Linked DNA regions of Homo sapiens. The protein of the gene in region 1 interacts with the protein of each later gene in a biochemical or structural test. Each region holds a gene or a part of one and is shown on either strand. Other genes may lie near its edges.

Region 1 (5,278 bases):
GAAACCTCCACCTCCTGGGTTCAAGCAATTCTCCTGCCTCAGCCTCCCGAGTAGCTGGGATTACAGGCATGCATCACCACGCCGAGCTAATTATGTATTTTTAGTAGAGACGGGGTTTCTCCATGTTGGTCAGGCTGGTCTCGAACTCCCGATCTCAGGTGATCCACCCACCTCGGCCTCTCAAAGTGCTGGGATTACAGGCGTGAGCCACCATGCCAGGCCCCCTAATCCCTTTTTTTTCATGTGGCCAAACTACTATTTATCCTGTGAGTCTCCACACAATCACCCTCACCCAGCAAGCCCTCCTAGACTCCCCAGATGGGTCCAGGTGCCTTCTCTGGGCTCCCAACAGCACTTAGGGCGTTCCCCCATCCTGCATGCCTCCCTGTCCCAGCCTTGTCCTCCCTGCTGGTGCCTCCCCATCCCATTCTTGATCATTCTAGGTCATTCCTGCCTGGTGGGGCCTTGACAAGATCTCTTAGGTGTCCAGAAGTGACTGTGGGCCCCATGAGGGCAGAACTGAGGGCTGTCTTGGTTATCACTATGTCCCCCACACCACCCAGCACATGGCCAGGCACACAGCAGGAACCTGTGGGCAATTATTGAATAAAAGCATAAATGAGAGGGAGGTGAGGGAGAGAGATAGGGGCACCATGGGCCCTGCCAGAAACCAGACAGAGACAATCATCTCCTGGACAGATCAAATGAGTTAGTTAGGCTCTCCCTGGCCTCCAGGCCTTTGCACAGGCTGTTCCCTTTGCCTGGAATCTTTTTTTTTTTTTTTTTTTTGAGATGGGATCTCACTCTTTCATGTAGGCTGGATTGCAGTAGTGTGATTATGACTCACTGCAGCCTCGACCTCCCAGGCTCAGGTGATTCTCCCACCTCAGTCTCCCAAGCAGCTGGAACTACAGGCACGTAACAGCATGCATGGCTAATTTTTGTATTTTTGTGTAGAGACCGGGTTTCGCCATGTTGCCCAGGCTGCTCTCAAAACTCCTGAGCTCCAGTGATCCATCCTCCTTGGCCTTCAAAAGTGCTGGGATTATAGGCATAAGCCACCATGCCCAGCCCCAGAATACTCTTACACCTCTCCTTTTCCTGACCATTCTACTCATCCCTTCAACATCAGCTATGGTGCCCCTCCTCCAGGAAGCCCTCCCTGATTCTGGGCTGGGTCAGGTACCTCCTTTGGGCTCCCCATCCCAGTCCCACCCACTCTGGGTCATCACTGCCTTACAGGTCTGTTCCCCAGCTACCTAGCCAATGGACTATATGAGCTCTGTGAGGGCAAGGATGGGGCTGTTTTGGTCATTGCTGTGTCCTTGGCATCACCCATCACAGGGCAGGGCAGAGAGGTGCTCAGGAAACAGATTAGCCAATCACTCAGGTTTCCATGCCACAGAGGGGAGCCAGGTCTCAGCACTTTCACACCAGTATGGGGCGGAGAGGGGTCCTAGGCAAAGTGACCCCAGGACAAACAATGGGGTGGACCCCAGGGAGAAACAGGGGTGGGACACACAAGTAATCCTCACCTCCACGGCTCAACCACTGCCGCACAACTCCGGTGACATCAAAAGATAACCACTCTGGCGAGTCGCTGGGTGCCAGCAGCCGGTTGCTGAGGTATCGCCAGGAATTGTTGCTGTATTTCTAGAGGATGATGAAGGCAGGAGAGAGACAGTGGGTAGATGGTGTCACGACCCCACATACACTAACTGAATCCTTCACCCCATCTGCTTCCCCAAACAGGCTTCCAGAAAGTTCCCAGGCACTACCCTCTCAGACAGCCACCTGTGTGGTCCTGTGGCACCCATCCTCCCCAACAGTACCCATGAGAGGAGGGGTGGAGAAAAAGCTCAGGCTGCGGTCAAGTCACCTTCACACAGCTCAGCCGAAGGTGTTTTCTTGCCTTCTCGAGGCCTGTTTCCTCATTGGTGAAATGCTAAGCCCCACTCAGCGTGGACAGCCCACAATGCTAAAATTCTGCTGCTAACATTCTGGGCCGGGCGCAGTGGCTCACGCCTGTAATCCCAGCACTTTGGGAGCCCAAGGTGGGTGGATCACTTGAGGTCAGGAGTTCAAGACCAGCCTGGCCAACATAGTGAAACCCCATCTCTACTAAAAATACAAAAATTAGCCAGGCATGGTGGCACACGCCTGTAGTCGCCACTATTTGGGAGGCTGAGGCAGGAGAATTGCTTGAGCCCGGGAGACACAGACTGCAGTGAGCCAAGATCACGCCACTGCACTCCAGCCTGGGCGACAGGACGAGACTTCGTCTCAAAATAATAATAATAAATAAAATAAAATTCTGCTGCAAACATTCTGGGGTTTACTGAGCATACGGTTCTGCAAATTTGACACCCTGAATTCTCAGTAACTTAGAAGTCATTTCTAATGATTCCGGCTGGGCACGGTGGCTCACGCCTGTTATCCCAGCACTTTGGGAGGCCAAGGCGGGTGGATCTCCTGAGGTCAGGAGTTCAAGACCAGCCTGGCCAACAAAGTGAAACCTCGTCTCTACTAAAAATACAAAAATTAGCCAGGCGTGGTGGCACACGCCTGTAATCCCAGCTACTCAGGAGGCTGAGGCAGGAGAATCACTTGAACCCAAGACACAGAGGTTGCAGTGAGCCGAGATTGCACCACTGCACTCTAGCCAGGGTGACAGAGTGAGACTCTGTCTCAAAAAAAAAAAAAGTCATTTTGTGATTCAAATGTTTGATAATATCCCAAGATTTCCACTTCTAGAGCCTGAGAAGCTTTAGAAGACTAATGTTCTATAAACCCAAGAGTCTGCCATGCCGCACCTAGATGCTGCAGGTACCCAACATCTGTGTAGAATAATTTTCTGGGCCAGGCACAGTCGCTCACGCTTGTAATCCCAGCACTTTGGGAGGCCGAGGAGGGTGGATCACCAGAGGTCAGAAGTTCGAGACCAGCCTGACCAATATGGAGAAACACCGTCTCTACTAAAAATACAAAATTAGCTAGGTGTGGTGGTGCATGCCTGTAATCCCAGCTGCTCGGGTGGCTGAGGCAGGAGAATCGCTTGAACCCAGGAAGCAAAGGTTGTGGTGAGCCAAGATGGTGCCATTGCACTCCAGCCTGGGCAACAGGAGCAAAACTCCATCACACACACACACAAAAAAAAGAAGAATTTTCTGGGGCTGGATAGTCCACTCCAGGGACTGCAGAATAAAGCTGAATTCCCCAGACTCCAAGAAGCCAAGCTAACATAGGACAAAGTTCTCTCACTGTGAAAGTCTGAAATCTACCATCCTATGAGTTAACATTCCCTCTGATATGGATTCTAGCTCATAGAAACTGCTAGAGCCTCCAGCCCTTCCAGATGCCCCAGTCCTCTTGGAAGCTCCCTATCTTCTAGAGCAGTGCTGTCCTAAAGAACTTTCTGGAAATGTGCTTTATCTGCAACATCCAAAATAGTAGCTGCTAACCACATGTGACTATAGAGTACTAGAAATATGGCCAGTGAGAATGAGGATTTCTTTTTCATTTTTATTTTTTTGAGACAGAGTCTCGCTCTGTTGCCCAGGCTGGAGTGCAGTGGTATGATCTCCGCTCACTGCAGTCTCCACCTCCTGGGGTCAAGCGATTCTCCCACCTCAGCCTCCCAAGTAGCTGGGATTACAGGTGCCTGCCACCACACCTGGCTAATTTTTGTATTTTTAGTAGAGATGGAGTTTCGTCATGTTGGCCAGGCTGGTCTTGAACTCCTGACCTCAAGTGATCCACCCACCCTGGCCTCCCAAAGTGCTGGGATTGCAGGCATGAGCCACCACGCCTGGCCTATATATATATATTTTTGAGACGGTCTCGCTCCATCACCCAGGCTGGAATGCAGTGGTGCAATCACAGTTCACTACAGCCTCGACCTCCTGGGCTCAATCAATCCTCCCACCTCAGACTACTGAGTAGCTGGGACTAGAGGCACGCATCACCATAACAGGCTAATTTTAGTATTTTTTGTAGAGACGAAGTTTCAACATGTTGCCCAGACTGGTCTCGGACTCCTGGGCTCAAGCAATCTGCCTGCCTCGGCTTCCCAAAGTTCTGGGATTAGAGGTGTGAGCCACTATGCCTGGCCCTAAATTTTTAATTTAATTTTAAACAATTTAAATTTTAATCAAGCTAAATGTGACTAGTGGCTGTCATATTGGACAGAATGATTCTAGAGCCCCCAACCTTTTCAGAGATTCCAACTTTCAAGAATCCTGTGTCCTTAAAGAGTCCAACTCCTAAGATTCCAGCCTTCTAAGTGTTTAACATCCTAGGATGCAAAGAGTCTGAACATTTAAAAGTGCTCTAGGTTCCGGGTGCAGTGGCTCACACCTGTAATCCCAGCACTCTGGGAGGCTCAGGTAGGAGAATCACTTGAGGGCAGGAGTTTGAGACAAGCCTGGCCAACATGATAAAACTCTGTCTCTACTAAAAATACAAAAATTAGCCCAGCGTGTTGGCACATGCCTGTAATCCCAGCTACTCGGGTGGCTGAGGCAGGAGAATCACTTGAACCCAGGAGGCGGAGGTTGCAGTGAGCCGAGATCACCCCATTGTACTCCAGCCTGGGCGACAGAGCAAGACTCCATCTCAAAAAAAAAAAAAAAAAAAAAAGAGGCCAGGCGCAGTGGCTCACGCCTGTAATCTGAGCACTTTGGGAGACCGAGGCAGGTGGATCACGAGGTCAGGAGATCGAGACCATCCTGGCCAACATGGTAAAACCCCATCTCTACCAAAAATACAAAAATTAGCTGGGCGTGGTGGCGCACACCTGTAATCCCAGCTACTTGGGAGGCTGAGGCAGGAGAATCACTGGAACCCAGGAGGCGGAGATTGCAGTGAGCTGAGGTCATACCACTGCACTCCAGCTTGGCAACAGAGTGAGACACTGTCTCAAAAAAAAAAAAAAAGCGTTCTAGGATTGTATGGTTTGTGTTCTTCTATCCTTCAGGGACCATCTAGGTGGACCTTGTAACCAGCCGACCCACAGCCACCCCCTTGGTCACAGCTCACCCTCTCCAGCCCATGCCCTGACCTTCCTTCTGGCTCATGTCCTCACCTGGTACAGCTCCACGTGCTGCTCCACTTTTAACTTGAGCCTCAGCAGACGCAGCTCTGCCCGGGAGAGCAACACGGGTTCAGGTACCGCTTCTCGGAGCTCTGATGTGTTGAAGAACATATATATGCTGTGTGTACTCTGCTTGAACTTGTCATAGATTTCTAGCAGGGAGAAATGAAGGGAGGCGATCAGGGG
Region 2 (4,388 bases), on another chromosome or scaffold:
GAGGGGGCTCCTGTCCTGGCCCTGACCTGACTCAATCGGTGTCTGTCTTGTTCCCAGGGTCCTCAAGGCCCCAGAGGTGACAAAGGAGAGGCTGGAGAGCCTGGCGAGAGAGGCCTGAAGGGACACCGTGGCTTCACTGGTCTGCAGGGTCTGCCCGGCCCTCCTGTGAGTGTCACTGCCTGCGTGGGACTTCCCGAGGCCTCCTGCCACACAGAGCCCACTTGAGCTCCCTGTGCTGCCAGGACAGCTTGGGATCACCCTAAGCAGTTTCTAGGATTTCCTCAGGGCTGGAGGGAGGAGGAAGTGGAAAGGGAATGGGGCTGGGACATAAAGCTGTTCCCCCAGCTCCCAGAATATAGATAGATATGTCTGTGCTGACCGTGGCCTTTTGCCTCTTCCTTCTACACAGGGTCCTTCTGGAGACCAAGGTGCTTCTGGTCCTGCTGGTCCTTCTGGCCCTAGAGTAAGTGACATGGAGTTGGAAGATGGAGGGGGCCCTTCAGAGAGTGTGGGCCTGTGTTCCCATGGGGAGGGAAATGCTGCTGCTTCTGGGGAAGCTGTGGGCTCAGGGGTCCTCACTCAGTAATGGGGGCAGGACTGGCTCATGTGCCTATGGCCAGAAAAGCGCCTGAGGCCACAATGGCTGTAAGACAAACATGAATCAGCCTCTCGCTGTCAGACAGAACAGCATTTTACAAAGAGGAGCTTAGGAGGGTAGGCAAGCCATGGAGCTATCCTGCTGGTTCTTGGCCAAATAGAGACCAACTTAGGGTTCCATGACTGAGCATGTGAAGAACTGGGGGCGGAGTGGCTGGTGCTATCAGGACAGCCACCTACCCAGCCCCAGCGACTCCCCAGCCTTCCCTGTGGTGACCACTCTTTCCTCACGACCTCTCTCTCTTGCAGGGTCCTCCTGGCCCCGTCGGTCCCTCTGGCAAAGATGGTGCTAATGGAATCCCTGGCCCCATTGGGCCTCCTGGTCCCCGTGGACGATCAGGCGAAACCGGCCCTGCTGTAAGTGTCCTGACTCCTTCCCTGCTGTCGAGGTGTCCCTACCATCCGGGAGGCTTGAGCTCTTTTTTGCTCAGGGCCTCTTTTAGGGCATCAGCCTGCAGCTAACAGTGATGGCATCCTTTATCCTGAGGTCTCCTCAGAGGTCACAGGGCCCATGATCAGTGCTGGGAAACTGAAGAGAAGGGCTAAGGAAGAAATAGACATGGTGCTGTGGTTTCCTTGGTCCTCGCCTGCTACACCTCCGCCCCACCCATGGGGCTGGGAAGAGGGACACTCTAGTACATTCTAGCAAATGGGGATGGACATGGAGGGGCACTTTCACACAATCCTGGCTGATCTCTCTGTTTCCTGCTGCAGGGTCCTCCTGGAAATCCTGGACCCCCTGGTCCTCCAGGTCCCCCTGGCCCTGGCATCGACATGTCCGCCTTTGCTGGCTTAGGCCCGAGAGAGAAGGGCCCCGACCCCCTGCAGTACATGCGGGCCGACCAGGCAGCCGGTGGCCTGAGACAGCATGACGCCGAGGTGGATGCCACACTCAAGTCCCTCAACAACCAGATTGAGAGCATCCGCAGCCCCGAGGGCTCCCGCAAGAACCCTGCTCGCACCTGCAGAGACCTGAAACTCTGCCACCCTGAGTGGAAGAGTGGTAAGCTTGGAGAACAGGATCCCCTGCCCCGGGAAGCAGGGAGTCATCCCTTAGGCCTAGCAGCAAGGGAGGAGATGCCCCCTAGTACAGGGCAGAGCTGGGCCTGGAAGTTTCCGCCAGAGGGTTCCTCTCTTATTTCACAGCAGAGAAGCTGCAGCCCTGGCCCCTGTCCTGCCATGGCTACCTGGCCGAGGTGACCTCAGGGTGGACTCCATCCACCAGCTGGGCACTGCTTCTGCTCTCTTTGCATGTGTTCTTCCTTAGGGCTGGACTTAGCTCATGCAGATCTCCCTGCCCCTGCATCCTCCCAGGTCCCCCTCCTTTCAGGCCACATGTGAACCTCATCCCTTGTCCCTGTAGGCCTCTCTGTCTCTTTCAGTCAGGCCTGGGTCTCTCAAGCTTTTGTGTCTGTGCCTGTCTGAGCCCCCATGGGTGCTGCCTCTTCCCCCTGCAGGAGACTACTGGATTGACCCCAACCAAGGCTGCACCTTGGACGCCATGAAGGTTTTCTGCAACATGGAGACTGGCGAGACTTGCGTCTACCCCAATCCAGCAAACGTTCCCAAGAAGAACTGGTGGAGCAGCAAGAGCAAGGAGAAGAAACACATCTGGTTTGGAGAAACCATCAATGGTGGCTTCCATGTGAGTACCTGGGTGCCCTAGATGATGAGCAGAGATGGCTCCTCAAACTCTTTCTTTTCTTTCTCCCTGGAAGCTTTTAGCACCTTCCCCATATTTTCCTCCAGTTTTCTGTTGGGCTTGAGAGGAGGGAAAGAGGAGGAAAAGTATTTTTTCCCCACGTGGAGGTGGGAAAAGAGGTCCTCTGAGCTTGCTCCACTCCTGGAAGCAAAAATGTCCAACTAGCTCCCTGCTGCCCCAGTACCCTTGAGGTCCTTGAACCATGAACTCTTGGCAGCCCCTACAGCCCCTGGTCCCATTGAATGCCAGCTCCCAGGCCTCACACTGCCGCTCTCTGCCCCAACAGTTCAGCTATGGAGATGACAATCTGGCTCCCAACACTGCCAACGTCCAGATGACCTTCCTACGCCTGCTGTCCACGGAAGGCTCCCAGAACATCACCTACCACTGCAAGAACAGCATTGCCTATCTGGACGAAGCAGCTGGCAACCTCAAGAAGGCCCTGCTCATCCAGGGCTCCAATGACGTGGAGATCCGGGCAGAGGGCAATAGCAGGTTCACGTACACTGCCCTGAAGGATGGCTGCACGGTGAGTGGGGCTGCCAGAGAGAAGAGCTGCCTGTGCCCAAACCGCCTGGAGCAGGGCTGAGGGTTGGCCCGCGGCAGCTGTCAGGTCCTAAAGTGACAGGATCATCAGAGGCATGAGTTTGAGGGTCATGTAGAGAAGATAGGCTGAGTGACAGGTGAGAGAGAGGCACATATCATTCCATCTTCTCCATTCCCCTGGCTCAGGGGAACAAAACCCTACCTGGAACCCAGTGACTACTGTAGAAGTGTTCTCGCAATGTGTACAGGGTGAAGAAGCGGTCACAGGTTGGGAGCTCACTGTGGGGAGTGGGGAAGGAGGGGAAGGGCAGGGTGGAGAAGGGCCCTGCCGCTAAGGATAGGAGTTGAAGTGGAGAGGCCTTTGGCAAGCCAAGAAGAGGTCTCAGGAGCCCCCTCAGTGTGGTTCAACCTTGTGGGCTCTGATGCTCGCCAGTTTGTTCAGTTTTGGGCTTCTGGGCAGCTGGAACTGGGTAGCAAGGCATCTACTGAACAGAGCCTCCTCCTTTTTTCTCCCCTAGAAACATACCGGTAAGTGGGGCAAGACTGTTATCGAGTACCGGTCACAGAAGACCTCACGCCTCCCCATCATTGACATTGCACCCATGGACATAGGAGGGCCCGAGCAGGAATTCGGTGTGGACATAGGGCCGGTCTGCTTCTTGTAAAAACCTGAACCCAGAAACAACACAATCCGTTGCAAACCCAAAGGACCCAAGTACTTTCCAATCTCAGTCACTCTAGGACTCTGCACTGAATGGCTGACCTGACCTGATGTCCATTCATCCCACCCTCTCACAGTTCGGACTTTTCTCCCCTCTCTTTCTAAGAGACCTGAACTGGGCAGACTGCAAAATAAAATCTCGGTGTTCTATTTATTTATTGTCTTCCTGTAAGACCTTCGGGTCAAGGCAGAGGCAGGAAACTAACTGGTGTGAGTCAAATGCCCCCTGAGTGACTGCCCCCAGCCCAGGCCAGAAGACCTCCCTTCAGGTGCCGGGCGCAGGAACTGTGTGTGTCCTACACAATGGTGCTATTCTGTGTCAAACACCTCTGTATTTTTTAAAACATCAATTGATATTAAAAATGAAAAGATTATTGGAAAGTACATATTGACTTGTGGTTTGTTCTTTAGTTTGTTTTCCATTAATCCTCCGTTCTGTAGGCATGCCCAAATAGCAGTCCTAAGGACTTCTTCTGTTGATTTTTCAACCGAGAGTAAGGACACTGAAGCCACACCGCCAGGGTTAGCAGCCTCACACAAACATGAACTTGCCTCTCTGGTAAACCTTGGCACTATGTGGAACCCACTGTTGAACAGGACCAGAAACCAAAACTTGAGAAGGGAGGTATGCTAGAGGGAGGGCATTGCTCTTGAAGGTAAACACTGAACACAGCTCTATGACACCTTAGTGCCCTGCCAGCTTACGGTGTAAGACCACATGTGGGCTGCATCCTGCTGGATCGGAGACGTGGGAGATACTCC
Region 3 (4,388 bases), 1.9 Mb from region 1:
CCAAGTCTCCCATGACAAGAGCATCCACTCCCCTTATATTCTTGGTTAAGGCTGTGCCTACCCAGGTTTTCCCAGGGCAGGGAGTCATGGCCACCTCGGATGTCTAGAAGTAAAGGTGTCTATACTTGGACCGGAGAGAGACTGAGAGGCCTGGCATCTGGTCGTTTGGACTTAAGCTGGTGTCCTGGCCCACAGAGGAACAAAAGATACTCACAGAGGACATTTAGGATGACTGGGTTACTGCGGAGGCCACCATATCGGTCCCGTATTTCACATTGATAGGGTCCTGTTTCATTTCTCGTGACACTGGGTAGAATGAGTATCCTGTTTTCAATGGGTCGCTTTACCCCGGGACTGACGGGGAGGCTCTGACCGTTTAGCCACCAAATGTAGGTGTAGTTCTCACTCTTAGGTTCACAGGTGAAGGCTAAGACATCCTTATTCTCCCTGGGGTTTAAGTTGTTGATGGTGATGTAGGGGATGGGCAGCTTCGCTGTGTGGATAACAGAGAGAAGATTGTCCTGTGTGGCACCTTTGATTCCTCCACAGGCATACTTCAATCAGAGTTGGCATCTCCCACCTCTCAGCCCACCCGAGTCCTTGAAAGCCAATAGCTGGTGCGTGTGTCACAAGACAGATGCATGATGATCTAAGGGCTCAAAGACTGTGAGGCCGCCTGCTCTGTCTTAGGGAAGCACAGACTTTCTCAAGTGTCAATTGAGCAGCAGTGTTGGGTCATGGACAGACACATCAGTGGGAGTCACAGCCCCTGGTACCCCTCCCAGTCCCTCCCTAATCAGTTGACTGGCTGGCTCACCTTGGGTTCCTTACCTGGAATGTGCAACTGCTGGGCCCCTTCCAAATTCCATCCTACTTTGCCCCCCTATATGTGATTTCTCTGCAGCTTCCATTTCTAAGGATGTTCTAGAGATGAGTAATAATGGGACTTCCCATTGTCCTGAGACCCTGAAGATACTTAGCAGCCTGGCCTGGGACTGGATGTTTCAGCAGAAATAACACAGAGGAGACCAGAGTCAAGCCTGGAGGTCAGTTCAGTCATCAGGCAGTGGAGGCTCAAGGTGGGGCAGTTTTTTGCAGGTGTTTCATGATGACTTACTTGAACCAGTGACCTCTAAACATAGAGCAGAGTGCAAGGAATGATCTAGAAAGAGTGAAGGCGACAGGCAAGAGCTGGTGGCTTTGGAGCAGAACCATGTTCTCTGTCCTGGGTTCTTTAAGTTTCCTCTCCTTCTGCAGAGGGCAGAGGAGGACCATGTGGATCTTTCCAGAAATACATGTGGACATTTGCAAATGCAGAACTGACTGGTGGAAAGTGTGGGAATGAACTGCTGGAAATCTGGTCCTCATGGACCATGTGTGTTTGATGGATATGAGACAAACTTGGAGAGAAGTTTTGCAAATATTTTCTTTCATTGGACATTCTACTCTCTGATCCCCTGGGTTCGACTACTCTAGGGACCTCATGTAAGTGGATTCCAGAGTGAATATGAGAAGAGACTGCTGGTTGCCAGGAGCTGGGAGTGGGGAGAATCAGAAATTGTTCATGGGTGTGCAGTTTCAGTTATGCAAGGTGGGGAGGTTCTAGAGATCTGCTGTAGAGCTTGATGCCTATAGTTCACACAGATTGAGTATTTCTTATGCATAAGTCTTAGGACAAAAAGTGTTTTGGATTTCTGACATTTTTTTATTCTGAAATATTTGTCATATACTTACTGGTTTAGCATCCCAAATCTGAAAGATTCAAAATCTAAAATGCTTCAGTGAGCATTTCTTTTCAGCATCAGATTAGTAGGCAAAAGTGGGAGGTGATAAGCCAAAGATATTCTTGCCCTTTTTTTTTCTCTCACCACTTTTCTAGCTTGATGATTAGTTTTTGGTCAATTCCATACTGGCCATGCTGCACTCATATATTTTTTAAAGCTTTGGGATGTGAGAAAGGCTGATTGCTATTTTCTTTGTCATCAGAACTTTCCACCTTTTCTGGTTGCATCTTTTTCTCAGTGTTTGTGTTGTGGCAGTCATTAATAAGATCCTGTCAGGTCAGATTTAGGACAGAGTTTTCTAATTCTGCAAAAAATGTTACTGGGATTCTGGTAGGGGTTGCATTGAATCTGCAACTCAATTGGGTAGTATTGTCTTTCTAACAATATTGATTCTTCCAATCCATGAAAATGAAATGTCTTTCCATATATTGATATCATCTTTAATTTCTTTCAGCAATGTTTTGTAGTTTTCAGGGTATAATCATTTGACCTTTTTGGTTAAACTTATTCCAAAATATTTTATTCCTTTTGATGTTAATGTGAATTGAAATCCTTTCCTTAACTTCCTTTCAGATTGTTCATTGTTAGTGTATAGTCTAAAGAATGATCTAGAAAGAGTGAAGGGACAGGCAAAAGCTGGTGGTTTTGGAGCAGAAACATATTCCCTATCCAGGGTTTTTTATTTTCCCTCTCCCTTTGCAGAGGGCAGGTGGCTGTTCCCTGACAGCTAGATAGACTTCACTGGAAAACATAGTGCCAGTGCTCCAGGGACCCACTTACCAGGGACTATGATCCTCTTGATTATGAGATTTGTTCCACCAGTGGCTGAGTTATGGATGAAACAGACATAGACCCTCTATATGTTTTAGTGATTTGGGGGATAAAGAACACTTGTGCTGAGTGCTGGAACTTCCCATCAATCAGCCAAGAATGCTCTGCCAGTGGGTGAGAGTCTGTGAGGCAGGAGAGATTGGGGAATTCCCCTGTATGGTAATAGATGTATGAGGAAGAAATGGTGGGTGCATCCAGGCCATGTGGAGCAAAGAGAATAATGTCACAAGCGATATTGTCAGAGGGAAGGGAAAATCCTGGTCTGTGGAAGGGCCACAGTGACCCTGTGAGCCAAGTCGCAACACTGAAGTCCCAGCCAAATCCCTGCTGTGTTCACTGATCTGGAGCCTGAGACATTCACCTGTTTCTCCCATCACAAGCTGTGGACCCAGAGTCTCCCATGACACAGCAGCCTCTTTTCTCCCATTGTTGATCAAGCCTAGGCCTACTCTGGTTTGCTTGGGGCAGAAAGTCATGGCCAGCTTTGATGTCTAGGGGTAAAGGTCTCTGTACTTGGACCTGAGAGGGACTGAGAGGCCTGGCCTCTGGCCATGTGTATTTGGGATGGCAGCCTGGCTCACAGAGGAACAGAAGATACTCACGGAGGAGATTCAGGGTGACTGGGTCACTGCGACTGGCACTCACTGGGTTCCGTATTTCACATTCATAGGGTCCTGCAATATACTTTGTGACACCAAATAGATAGAGGGTCCTGTTGGTTTTGGACAGCTGCAACCTGTGAGTCACAGGGAGGCTCTGACCATTCATCCACCATAGGTAGCTTGCGTCCAGAGTCTCAGGATCACAGATTAAGCGCACAGCCTCCATGGCCTCCCTGGGGTTTAAGTTGCTGCTGGAGATGTAGGGCTTGGGAGTCTCCACTGTGCAGAAAACAGAGAGAAGATTGCCCTGTGTGGCACCTTTGATTCCTCCAAAGGCATTTTTCAGTCAGAGTTGGCATTTCCCACCTCTCAGCCCAACCCAGTCCTTAAAAGCCCATGGCAGGTGTGTGTGTTACAAGACAGATGCATGGCAATCTGAGAGCTCAGAGATTGTGAGGCTGCCTGCTTTATGTGGGAGAAGCACAGACTTTCTTAAGTGTGAATTGAGCAGCAGCATTGGGTCATGGAAAGACACAGGACCAGCAGTCACAGCCCCTGATGCCTCTTTGAGTCCCTCCGTCTCCAACTGCCTGACTGGCCCAACTTGTGGTCCTCACTTGGAGCATGCAGTGCTGGAATCCTCTTAGTTTCAGTCTTACTTTGCCCCCTGAGGTATGTTTTCTCTGCAGCTTCCCTTGCCAAGGACATCCTAGAGATGGGTGATGGAACTTCCCATTGTCCTTAAACCCTTTGGGTATTGGAAAGCCTGGTCTGGGACTGGGTACTTCAGCAGAAATAACACAGGGGAGACCAGAGTCAAGCCGGGAGGTCAGTTAAGACATCAGGCAGTGGAGCCACAAGGTGGGGCAGTTTGCAGTTTTCCCAGGTGTCTCATAGTGACTGACTTGAGCCAGTGACCTCTAACGATAGAGCAGAGTCCAAGGAATGACCTACAAAGAGTGAAGGGGCCAGGCAGTAGCTGATAGCTTTCGACCAAGACCATGTTCCCTGTTCTGGGTCCATGATGCTCCCTTCCCCCTGTAGAGGGCAGGTGAGGACCATGTGGATCTTTCTAGAAATACATGTGGATGTTTGCAAATGCAGAACTGACTGGTGGAAAGGGTGAACATGAACAGATGATGGAAGTCTGGCCCTCAAGGACCATATGCGT
Region 4 (4,388 bases), on another chromosome or scaffold:
ACGAGCCTTACCCCTATGGGGTGGATGAAGGGCCAGCCTACACCTACGGCTCTCCATCCCCTCCAGATCCCCGCGACTGCCCCCAGGAGTGCGACTGCCCACCCAACTTCCCCACGGCCATGTACTGTGACAATCGCAACCTCAAGTACCTGCCCTTCGTTCCCTCCCGCATGAAGTATGTGTACTTCCAGAACAACCAGATCACCTCCATCCAGGAAGGCGTCTTTGACAATGCCACAGGGCTGCTCTGGATTGCTCTCCACGGCAACCAGATCACCAGTGATAAGGTGGGCAGGAAGGTCTTCTCCAAGCTGAGGCACCTGGAGAGGCTGTACCTGGACCACAACAACCTGACCCGGATGCCCGGTCCCCTGCCTCGATCCCTGAGAGAGCTCCATCTCGACCACAACCAGATCTCACGGGTCCCCAACAATGCTCTGGAGGGGCTGGAGAACCTCACGGCCTTGTACCTCCAACACAATGAGATCCAGGAAGTGGGCAGTTCCATGAGGGGCCTCCGGTCACTGATCTTGCTGGACCTGAGTTATAACCACCTTCGGAAGGTGCCTGATGGGCTGCCCTCAGCTCTTGAGCAGCTGTACATGGAGCACAACAATGTCTACACCGTCCCCGATAGCTACTTCCGGGGGGCGCCCAAGCTGCTGTATGTGCGGCTGTCCCACAACAGTCTAACCAACAATGGCCTGGCCTCCAACACCTTCAATTCCAGCAGCCTCCTTGAGCTAGACCTCTCCTACAACCAGCTGCAGAAGATCCCCCCAGTCAACACCAACCTGGAGAACCTCTACCTCCAAGGCAATAGGATCAATGGTGAGACCTTGGCAAAGGGAGGCGGGGACTGGCTGTCTATTTCACTTGAAAGACACTATTCTGAGTGCTAGTGGCAAAACAAAAGAAATAGAAATAGGGGAACCAGACAGCACAAATGAAGCAACCTGACAACCAAGCCATACCCCTGTACAAAAGAGAATACACTTATACTAAATAGCAGTGCTAAGACAATTCAGTGGGGAGTGGGTTGGTACAGAAGAAGACTTTCCAGGAGAGGTAAGTTTCATTCCAGGTCTTGAGAGATAAGTGGGCATGGGTTGGGGGTATGCAGGATGGAGACATTCTGGGACAGAGGCTTGCCACAAAGGAGCCAGTCATTTTCACAGGTCACCTGTCGATGTAGGGGACAGCTGGGAAATGTCACGTGTCTGAGATGAAGGGGTCATGTGTCAGGGAGCAGTAAGAGATGAGTTCGGAGAAGTTTAGGAGGGAATACTTCAAAGGGAGGGAGATTTAAGTTTAGCTTCTAAAGTCTGTTTCAGGAGAATGGTGGGTTGAAGCCCTGCACTTACTCACTGTCCCAGAAGAGGATGAGCTCTCTTTTTCCACTTGAACTACTCTTGCGTCTACAGCCTGGTCTTGTGTTTTGGTGTTTATTCTCAGAGCTGAATGCGGCACTTGTTCTGGTCAGTTCTTCCTGGAGTACAAGGACCCCCTGGTGGCAGGGCAGATATCCTTCCTAGGGTAACATGAGCCTGACTACCACCAAGCCTAGGACACTGGGCTTCCTGTTTCATAAGCACTTCCTTGCAATGCCCAAAGGAAAAAAAAAAAGGCTGCCTCCCTGACTCTAAGAAATATTCATTTCAGATGGAATTATCTAGCTGATTTTCAGCTCCCTTTAGTCTTAGGATCTAGTATTCAGAACATGCTTACATTACCCCAGGGCTTCTGATGTCTTAATCCCAGCTGGAAGGTACTGAGCCAGCACTTGACCTCCCTTCCTGTCAGCAAAGTCCTCTTCCATCTGGAGAAGGGAGGACTCATTAACGACCACTGGCAAAGGGCTTTGAAGTGGAGCCTGCTGAGATAGAACCGCACCATCAAAGCGCTGAGAAGAACAGAGTCGTCACCCTCTCCCTCTCATTCCTTTCTCCCCTGTGCTCAGGGAACAGATCAGTCATTGAGCAAGATGTTAACAAGCTGGGCAGCCCTCTGAGTGAGAGAGGCACCAGCCCCAGAGGGCAATTTGGGAGTTGACAGTCGGGTGGGCAAGGCAAAGAGGCATCTGTCTGGCACCTTTAGTTTGAAGTGCCTGACACCATCATGTACAGCCTAAACTCTTTTTTATTAAAATCTCTCTTTCTTTGGGGTCTTTTTATTCCCAAGGTGGGGATTGAGGGGTCCTCTAAGACGTCTTTTTTTTTTTTTTTGAGACAGAGTCTCGCTCTGTCACCCAGGCCGGAGTGCAGTGGCATGATCTCAGCTCACTGCAAACTCCGCCTCCTGGGTTCACGCCATTCTCCTGCCTCAGCCTCTTGAGTAGCTGCGACTACAGGCGCCTGCCACCACGCTCGGCCAACTTTTTATATTTTTAGTAGAGACGGGGTTTCACCGTGTTAGCCAGGACGGTCTTGATCTCCTGACCTCGTGATCTGCCTGCCTCGGCCTCCCAAAGTGCTGGGATTACAGGCATGAGCCACCGCGCCCAGCCAAGACATCTTGAAGATGTTGCAAGCTGCAGACGTTTGACATTTCCTTGTGGCTGTCTATCATCACACCAGCAGTTACCACTACTTACCTGCCACACACTCTGAATCCAGGAGCAGTCACATCAGAAATGTCACACGTATGCTGTGCTTCATCCAAGTTTGACCCTGAAACTGTGACAGCAAAGAACAGCTGTCATGGGAAAGAATCTATTAGCACCTACCCATACAATCAGAGAAAGTTGGGATGGAAAAGGCTTCATCACAACCTTTTATCATCGTTCTGCCTTCATGCAGAACCACATCTGCCACTCAAATGGGAGGTGGACCACCTCTTCCAGACGCTTGTCAGAAAATAAAATTAGTGCAGTTTCCTAAGGTCCCGCAAACAAATTCTCTGTTCAAACAACCCCCAAATTTTCGGTGTCTACTCCCAAATCAATTCTTGTGCAATTTAAGTCCAAGCCCCGTGACTAGGTATCACTTAGTCTCTCTCAGCCTTCTTTTTAGACAAAATAATGCTTTATTTTCCTTAAAGTAGTGAATTAATATATGTAAAGTGCTTTGTCTAGGGCCTGGCATAGAATTTAAAAACCAATGATAGCTATTATTATTAGCCTTTCTTCTCATTGCCACTTTAAAGTTGACAGGCAGTTTTTGTTGTTGTTTTGGGGAAAAAGAGACACAGAGAAGGTAAAGCCATCTCTCAAAGTCCTCCAGATGATGTAGATTAGAATCCTGACCTAAAGGACCTAGAGCCAGGCATCTCCGACTGAGAATGGTGAGGAATATCTCTCTGATGCAGACCACTAGCAGGAAAACAGCTCCCCAAGCTCAGCCCCCTCTCCTACAGCAAACGTGAGGGACATCTCCCTGCAAACCAGTCAGGGACTTGGGGATGGGGGGTGTTGGAGGTGGGATTGAAACAAGCTTCTGAGAGAGGAGCTTAAAGAAGAACAGGAGCTCAGGGGCGCACAGGGGAATCAGATGTGGTCCTCTCCTCGCCACTTCCCTCTTCCATCAGTATCTCCCTCAGTTTTTCCAGCCTGGCAAGAACACAGCTCAGAATGTTATTCAGAAGCTTTGGGATTCAGTGGAGCAGGGCGGGTACACCAGTAGGAATTTGGAAAGACTTATGTCAGTATTTAATTTGGGCTAGAAAAATGTCCTCCAGTGCCTCCACGCAGAAGCCTGTCCTATTCATGGGCTTGGGGAAGACGGGGGGGTGCTCACAGTACCCAGTATGTGGCTAGAGTCCATATACACTGTGTGTCTAGCTCCCCACAGGTATGTCCCACATTTACCTATCCACAGCTGGGATCTGGAATTTTAGCAGGCAGTCTGAGGGCTCCAGGCTGGGAAAGAATCTATCACGGAGCCTGCAGCTCCATCCTAAGTAGGGCTGGAAATGATACTTAAGCTGAGCCACTTTGCTTCTTCTCCTCACCCCACTGCTCTGCTTGTACACAGATAACATAGACCCAGCCCCGGTCTAGGCTCTGCCCCCAACCTGCTCACTCAGAGGCCACTTAATCTAGTCCTTGGGACCAGAAAGGAAACATCCAAAAGTATTCCAGAAATTCTACCCCACCAGGAGTGTTTTCCAAAGACGAGTATTTCCCAGTTTCCGCTACTTTTCTCAGTGTCTAATTTTCTTTAGGCCTAGATTTTCTGTGTTATGCCTGCAATACAAGTTAATTTGCTGCAACCTCACCTCATCTTATCTTGGTCAGTGCTTAACAGAGACTGAAAACCATTGAAAATGCTAATTTAAAAACACTTTTTTCATCAGCCTCTTTAAGCTCTCCATGCTGTCTTTCTTGGAACTGTCTTCTTCATACCTATAACCTCTCCCAAGGGGAGCCCTCATGGTCACACCTAAGAATA

The links. The genes of interacting proteins can lie anywhere in the genome.
Region 2: the proteins of TGFB1 (region 1) and COL2A1 form a complex in vitro, tested with the Homo sapiens proteins (one study listed by BioGRID).
Region 3: the proteins of TGFB1 (region 1) and PSG9 interact in a biophysical measurement, tested with the Homo sapiens proteins (one study listed by IntAct).
Region 4: the proteins of TGFB1 (region 1) and FMOD form a complex in vitro, tested with the Homo sapiens proteins (one study listed by BioGRID).

What each region holds. Positions count from the first base shown.
Region 1 is NC_000019.10:41,343,212-41,348,489, forward strand, and holds part of TGFB1 (transforming growth factor beta-1 proprotein preproprotein), read right to left. Parts: intron 5,245-5,278; coding exon 5,084-5,244; intron 1,654-5,083; coding exon 1,536-1,653; intron 1-1,535. UniProt on the Homo sapiens protein: Transforming growth factor beta-1 proprotein: Precursor of the Latency-associated peptide (LAP) and Transforming growth factor beta-1 (TGF-beta-1) chains, which constitute the regulatory and active subunit of TGF-beta-1, respectively.
Region 2 is NC_000012.12:47,972,589-47,976,976, reverse strand, and holds the end of COL2A1 (collagen alpha-1(II) chain isoform 1 precursor), read left to right. Parts: intron 1-57; coding exon 58-165; intron 166-409; coding exon 410-463; intron 464-906; coding exon 907-1,014; intron 1,015-1,371; coding exon 1,372-1,660; intron 1,661-2,114; coding exon 2,115-2,302; intron 2,303-2,645; coding exon 2,646-2,888; intron 2,889-3,423; coding exon 3,424-3,570; 3' UTR 3,571-4,010; downstream 4,011-4,388. UniProt on the Homo sapiens protein: Type II collagen is specific for cartilaginous tissues. It is essential for the normal embryonic development of the skeleton, for linear growth and for the ability of cartilage to resist compressive forces.
Region 3 is NC_000019.10:43,258,643-43,263,030, forward strand, and holds part of PSG9 (pregnancy-specific beta-1-glycoprotein 9 isoform 1 precursor), read right to left. Parts: intron 3,497-4,388; coding exon 3,218-3,496; intron 494-3,217; coding exon 215-493; intron 1-214. UniProt on the Homo sapiens protein: Binds to the small latent transforming growth factor-beta complex, consisting of the N-terminal TGFB1 latency-associated peptide (LAP) and the mature form of TGFB1, thereby leading to the activation of TGFB1.
Region 4 is NC_000001.11:203,343,735-203,348,122, reverse strand, and holds part of FMOD (fibromodulin precursor), read left to right. Parts: coding exon 1-831; intron 832-4,388. UniProt on the Homo sapiens protein: Affects the rate of fibrils formation. May have a primary role in collagen fibrillogenesis.